Linked DNA regions of Homo sapiens. The protein of the gene in region 1 purifies or fractionates together with the protein of each later gene. This does not show direct contact. Each region holds a gene or a part of one and is shown on either strand. Other genes may lie near its edges.

The links.
Region 2: the proteins of HSD17B14 (region 1) and SON purify together in Homo sapiens (affinity purification with mass spectrometry; one large-scale study listed by BioGRID and IntAct). This does not show direct contact.

What each region holds. Positions count from the first base shown.
Region 1 is NC_000019.10:48,826,492-48,829,991, reverse strand, and holds part of HSD17B14 (L-fucose dehydrogenase), read left to right. Parts: intron 1-3,500. UniProt on the Homo sapiens protein: Catalyzes the NAD(+)-dependent oxidation of L-fucose, yielding L-fucono-1,5-lactone, which rapidly converts spontaneously to L-fucone-1,4-lactone. Can also act on D-arabinose and L-galactose, with lower catalytic efficiency. Does not use NADPH.
Region 2 is NC_000021.9:33,574,038-33,577,981, forward strand, and holds the end of SON (protein SON), read left to right. Parts: intron 1-1,558; coding exon 1,559-1,630; intron 1,631-1,740; coding exon 1,741-1,856; intron 1,857-2,327; coding exon 2,328-2,387; 3' UTR 2,388-3,444; downstream 3,445-3,944. UniProt on the Homo sapiens protein: RNA-binding protein that acts as a mRNA splicing cofactor by promoting efficient splicing of transcripts that possess weak splice sites.

The DNA.
Region 1 (3,500 bases):
GTCTCAAAAAAAAAATAATTCATTAATTAATTTTTAAAAAGAGCATGGAGTCCAGGCATGGTGGCTTACGCCTGTAATCCCAGCACTTTGGGAGGCCGAGGCAGGCGGATCACCTGAGGTCGGGAGTTTGAGACCAGCCTGACCAACATGGAGAAACCCCATCTCTATTAAAAATACAAAATTAGCCGGGTGTGGTGGCACATGCCTATAATCCCAGCTACTCAGGAGGCTGAGGCAGGAGAATCACTTGAACCTGGGAGGCAGAGGTTGCAGTGAGCTGAGATCGTGCCATTGCACTCCAGCCTGGGCAATAAGAGCGGAAACTCCGTCTCACAAAAAAAAAAAAAAAAAAAAAAGCCAGGCCTGGTAGCTCATGCCTGTAATCCTGGCACTTTGGGAGGCCAAGGCGGACAGATCACTTGAGGTCAGGAGTCCAACATGGTGAAACCCCATCTCTACTAAAAATACAAAAATTAGCTGTGCGTGGTGGCAGGTGCCTGTAATCCCAGCTACTCAAGAGGCTGAGGCGGTAGAATTGCTTGAACCTGGGAGGTGGAGGTTGCAGTGAGCTGAGATTGTGCCACTACACTCCAGCCTGGGTGACAGAGTGAAACTCTTTCTCAGAAAAAAAAAAAAAATTAGCTGAGTATGGTGGTGCTCCTGTAATCCCAGCTACACGGGAGGCTGAGGTGAGAGGATCACTTCAACCTGGGAGCTGGAGGCTGCAGTGAGCCGTGATTGTGCCACTGCACTCCAGCCTGGGCAACAGAGCGAGTCCTTGTCTTAAACAAGAATTGGGGGAGAGCTGGGGAGGGAATGAGAAAGAAAACAAACTTTTTTATCTGAGAAAGGAGAGCCCCTTTAGATGATCAGGATCAGGCCCAGAGGGGCTTTTTAACAACTTTTTTAAAAATTAATTAATTTATTTTTTGAGACAGAGTCTTACTCTGTCACCCAGGCTGGAGTACAGTGGCACAATCTCGGCTCACTGCAACCTCTGCCTCCCAGGTTTAAGCAATTCTCTGCCTCAGCCTCCCTAGTGGCTGGGATTATAGGCACTCACCACCACGCCTGGCTAATTTTTTTGTATTTTTAGTAGAGACGAGGTTTCACCATGTTGGCCAGGCTGGTCTTGAACTCCTGACCCCGTGATCCACCCACCTCAGCCTCCCAAAGTGCTGGGATTACAGGCATGAGCCACTGTGCCTGGCCTTTTTATTTTTTAATAGAGGTGGGGTTTCACTATGTTGTCCAGGCTGGTCTCAAACTCTTGGGCTCAAGTGATTCTCCTGCCTCAGCCTTTCAAACTCCTGGGATTACAGGTGTGAGCCACCGCACCTGGCTCAGAGGGACTTTATAAAAATGTATTTTAATTACTTTTTGAGACAGGGACTCACTCTGTTGCCCAGGCTGGAGTACCATCATAGCTCACAGCAGCCTCGAACCCCTGGGCTCAAGTGATCCTCTTGTATCAGCCTCCTGAGCAGCTGGGACCACAGGGGTGCACCACTATGACTGACTAATTTTTAACTTTTTTGTAGAGACAGGGTCTTTCTATGCTGCTCAGGCTGGTCTCGAACTCCTTGCCTCAAGCTGGGATTACAGGCATGAGCTACTGCACCCATCCAATAATTACCTTTTGAGGCTACTTGGTTTCTGGACTCTAGACGACCTGATACCAAGTAGCTCTAGAGTGTCACACACTCTATAGTTCAAACATGTATAGCCAATCACTAATCAATGTGATGTCTGTAAACCAATGACAATTCCTGATGAACAACTTTTGTAATCACCGCCTCTCTTGATTCGTCCTTTTTTCTTTAAAAAGTTGAGCCTTTGGCCGGGCGCGGCACCTCATGCCTGTAATCCCAGCACTTTGGGAGGCCGAGGCCGGCGGATCACGAGGTCAGGAGATCGAGACCATCTTGGCTAACGCGGTGAAACCCCGTCTCTACTAAAAATACAAAAAATTAGCTGGGCGCGGTGGCGGGCTCCTGTAGTCCCAGCTACTTGGGAGGCTGAGGCAGGAGAATGGCGTGAACCCGGGAGGCGGAGGTTGCAGTGAGCCGAGATTGCATCACTGCACTCCAGCCTGGGCAATAGAGCGAGACTCCGTCTCAAAAAAAAAAAAAGAAAAAAAAAAGGAAGGAGAAGGGTTGGTCACGGTGGCTCACACCTGTAATCCCAGCACTTTGGGATGCCAAGGCGGGTGGATCACTCATCAGGAGTTCAAGACCAGCCTGTCCAATATGGTGAGACCCCGTCTCTACTAAAAATACACAAAAAATTAGCTGGGCATGGTGGTGAGCACCTGTAATCCCAATTCCTCGTGAGGCTGAGGCAGGAGAATTGCTGGAACCTGGGAGATGGAGGTTGCAGTGAGCTGAGATTGCACCACTGCACTCCAGCCTGGGCAACAGAGCAAGACTCTATCTAAAAAAAAACGAAGGAGAAGAACACACATCAAAGCCTTTCCCTCACCCTTGCTTATGCAACAGCTGCACACAAACATCCACTCTCCATAACATCTTTATTCTCCGCATAGCACTTTTTAATTAATTAACTCAACAAATAGTTATATAGCACCAGCAACATGCGGAGCCCTGCGCATACAGCTATGAACACACAACAGAAGAAAATCCCTGTCCTTGCCAGGCACGGTGGCTCATGTCTTTGTAATCCCAGCACTTTGGGAGGCTAAGGCGGGCAGATCATGAGGTCAGGAGTTCGAGACCAGCCTGGCCAACATGGTGAAACTCCGTCTCTACTAAAAATACAAAAATTAGCCAGGCGTGGTGGTGGGCGCCTGTAATCCCAGCTTCTTATGAGGCTGAGGCAGGACAATCTCATGAACCCAGGAGGCAGAGGTTGAGGTGAGCTGAGATCACACCACTGCACTCCAGCCTGGGCGACAGAGCGAGACTCCATCTCAAAAAAAAAAAAAAAGTGGGGTTTTAGGTTTGTTCTCCCCACCTCCAGCAACTGAGCAACTGACCGGACAGAGCTGCCATTCACTGTGGCAGGAAAGCCTGGCGGGGGCGCTGTTGAACATGAACTGCCTGGTGGACGTCCTGGTGGGAATGGGCATTGGGCATGAGATCGTGGAGGTGGGGCTCTGGAGATACCAGCTTGCAGCTGACCAGTTTGAGGCTGGAGGAACTCAGGGGAGCAAGAGTAGGCAAAGAGGGGAGAGGCCTGGGGGCGGGCCCAGTGTCCAGGGAGCTTCAGGTGCTGACTCTGAGGTCGCATCCAAGATCCAGGTGAAATGTTCCCGGGAGGTTGGGCAATCCCCTGCTTAACCAGTGAACCCTGGCTCCTGTTCCAAATTTGTGTTGACTTTCTAGGATTAACCCAACACTAAAAACACCTCCACACATAAAACACACCTACACCTCAGCCCATGAAGAGTTAATATATGTGTGTGTGTGTGTGTGTGTGTGTGTGTGTGTATATATATATATATTTTCTTCTTTTCTTTTACTTTTTTTTTTTTTTTTTTT
Region 2 (3,944 bases), on another chromosome or scaffold:
CCTTCAGATACCTGGGCAGGGCAGCACTGTGTCTTCTATGTAGCTTGTATGTAGTTGCTAAGTATTTAATCATTCCCACAGATGATAGCTAATTGGCGTCTTTTAAATAACTTCTTCCCTTGGAATAATGTAAGTGGAATCATGAGAGGCTTGCCAGCTCAGTATGATTTTTGTATAGCTTGTTTAAACCTCATTTATAAAAGCTGACAAATGTAAAACTGGGATTTATTTTCATCTTTGTAATCAAACAGTAAGTTGAAGCTAACTTCAATAGTTAAACTGTCTTAATGAATTTGGAAATGAACTAGCTCTGCACCAAATACTTTGATGTTAAGTATTGTACAATTTCAGGAAGCATTGTCCTTGGAATTGTGGGACATGGCCTGACTGTAAGCTCTCAGAGAACCACAGATTTCCCAGGATAGGTTTAGAAAAGCTTATATTAGCATGGAATTATTTAGCAAAGGTTGAAAAATTTCCTGTAACATACAGGATGAGCATCCCACATCTGGAAACCTGAAATGCTTTAAAACAGAAAACTTTTTGAATACTGATATGATGCTCAAAGGAAATACTCATTGGTGCATTTTGGATTTCAGCCTCTTCAGATTTGGGATGCTTGACCGCTAAATACAATGCAAATATTTGAAAACCTGGAATCAACCGACACACTTCTGGTCCCAAGCATTTTGGATAAGGAATACTCAACCTGTATATGAATTGGGAAAGCAGTGTTTGGGTTTAGCAATGTAGCTAATCCCCTTTGTAATAAGTCTATGGAGAGAGAGGTTATGTAGAAAGGTTATGTTCATATTTTGAGAACATCTCCCATTTGTTAGGAAGGGAGAGGAGAGTTTGCTAGGAAAAAAGGGACCTATTTTATTTGGAGACAACCGTTTTCACCTTTTTGGTGGCTTAAAATCCTAACCTTTTTTGGAAGAGTCTTAACTGAAGCTTATTTTTTTAAGAGACAGTAAATCTGCAGAAATCACTTGGCAATAAGCTATTTTTTTTCTTTTTTTGAGATGGAGTTTTGCTCGTTGCCCAGGCTGTCAGTGGCACGATCTTTACTCACTGCAACCTTCGCTTCCAGGTTCAAGCGATTCTCCTGCCCCAGCCTCCCGAGTAGCTGGGATTACAGGCGCGCACCACCACGCCCGGCTAATTTTTGTTTCTTTAGTAGAGACGGGGTTTCACCATGTTGGCCAGGCTGGTCTCAGACTCTTGACCTCAGGAGATCCACCCGCCTCGGCCTCCCAAAGTGCTGGGATTACAGGCATGAGCCACTGTGCCTGGCCATACTTAACTTTTTGTTTTCTGTTTACATTTGGTATTTATTACAATTTCTCATACCAAGATCTATGAATATTAAATATAAATTTATATGCTGAAAAACAGTAAAAGAGAAGAAAGAGAAGATTGATAGAGAAATCGAGTGTACTAGGAATCTGCTGATTTTATTTGAAGGCATACATTTTGAGGTTCAGACTCCTACAGAGGGATCTTTGTTTTAAAGTGGTGCTTTGAAATTTATTTAGTGAACAATTTTTTTTTAAAGGTCTTGTTGCAGTAGGAGAAAGAGCACAAAAGAGGTCTGGGAACTTCTCTGCTGCAATGAAAGATCTGTCAGGTGAGAGCACGTTTTTGAATTTCCTCTTACCCTAATCCCACCTTGAATTCATTATTTGTTGCAGAAGTTGGTGGAAATAATTTAAAACTGGGTATTTCTCCCCCCTGCAGGCAAACATCCTGTGTCTGCTTTGATGGAGATCTGTAATAAAAGAAGGTGGCAACCACCTGAATTTCTATTGGTCCATGATAGTGGCCCTGATCATCGCAAACATTTTCTCTTTAGGGTAAATATGAATTTCTGCATTAATTATATATATTTATTAATGTGATGACTTAGAGGGTGAGGGGTAAACATGATCACAGGATTAAGATTCTGTTCATGGGTGGGGGGTTTGTATTTGTAGTTAAGTGGTGGGGTTTTTAAACACTGAAGGGTGCTTTAATACGACTTGTCAATGTCCTATTTTTTAAAAAATTGGAAAAGGGTAAAATATAGTATACAATTGTTATTTTCTAGTTGAATGTGGGGAATTAATTTAATACTTTTGTCAGTCTTTTTCTCAATTTGGAGACCTGCTCTAATTTGCAGTCCCTTTCCCAAATGATTTGGTTCTTCGGGTTGAGATTATAATTTGACTTACATAGTATGGGTTTTATATTTTTGTAAATTATTTTTCTAGCATTTAGTGAAAAAATACAAAGCTAATAGATATTAAAGTTTGATGCTGTTCTTATTGTATGTTTTTCTTGAATAGGTATTGAGAAATGGAGCCCTTACCAGACCCAATTGTATGTTTTTCTTGAATAGGTATTGATAAATGGAAGCGCTTACCAGCCCAGCTTTGCCAGCCCTAATAAGAAGCATGCTAAAGCCACAGCAGCTACTGTGGTTCTTCAAGCAATGGGCCTTGTACCAAAGGACCTCATGGCTAATGCCACTTGCTTCAGGAGTGCCTCACGTAGATAGATTGAGGTTTTATAATAATCATTTCAGAATTTTACTCTGCATCACAATGTATTTCCTCTTTAATGTTGTAAATATTTGGCAATTTAAGACATTGTGTAAAAAGCAATCTGTAAAAACATCTCCAGGCTTTGATTTTTGTACCATGGAAATTGTATTTAACCATACAGGGTTTTGGTATGTTTATATTGTTTACCTTAGTGATGTATTTGTTTAAGTGGCTAACATCCAAACGACTGTTTGAAGGCATCAGAGTAATCTTCAGTGTGGAATGTTAAATAACGCTTTTATACTGTATTTTGTACTATGATGTAACTCCCCTTCCTTATGGCTAGGCTACTGTAACACTTGCCTGTAATCAGTGAAGGGCTGTGCACCTTGTACTATTTCACAATGGGTTCTGCTGGACAGATAATGGGCCAGTGTTATTGAGGTGATCAAGATCTGTTCCACAGGGCTAATGCCACCATCTCCCCTCAAAATTTTGTAGAGGTTCTAAAAAGAAAGTGGTATGTTGTGTGATGATCAGCACTAAGTCCTGCATTCCTGTTAAAGCCACTTGGGTCATAAGAAGGGAGTAAAAAATGAAGTCTGACTAGAATTCTATTGCAGAGGCCAGTACATTTAGTATGGCATTGAGTTGTGATATAGTTTTACTTTGATGTGCATTTTGAATTTCAGCTACACCTAGATAGACGTAAAATGATAATTAAAATGCTGTAACCAACTTATCTAATAAAATTGGCAACCAGCCACTATTTTGTTGACTATGAGAAAGTTAAAAGTTTATGTTAATTTTTAGGGTCTGATAGAATATTTCATGTGTATTACAGTGGTATTCATATGCTATGTCTCTAAACTTTATTTTCAAAAGCTTAAGGCCCAAATACAAACTTCTCTGGAATAAACGTGGTGTTTTATTTTCTGGGTTATAAAGTGAACAAATACTTAGATACTATTATTTCTTTACCCAATGCTTTTGATTTTTAAGCACTTTTATTTTAAAAATGTGAATTATACAGTCCCCCCCTACACACACACACACACACACACACACACACACACACACACACACACACACACACACACACACACACACACACACACACACACACACACACACACACACCCCTATAAGCACATTAAATACTACTTTGCCGTGACAGCTCAGTGTACTTCACAATTCTTAACACTATTCTATGTGGAATACAAAATGCCTTTTTATCTGAATTAACATGCATTTAAAAAGTTTTAGTATATGTGAAAATAAAGGAATTATAAATCAGTAGGAAAGATATTAAGGTAGAAGCATCACCAATCAACTAGCTCAGTAGATGTTGTCTGTATTTATTTTCTACCTTTATGAAACAAGAACCTGCTAACAGGTAAATCGTAAAGTAACATATTT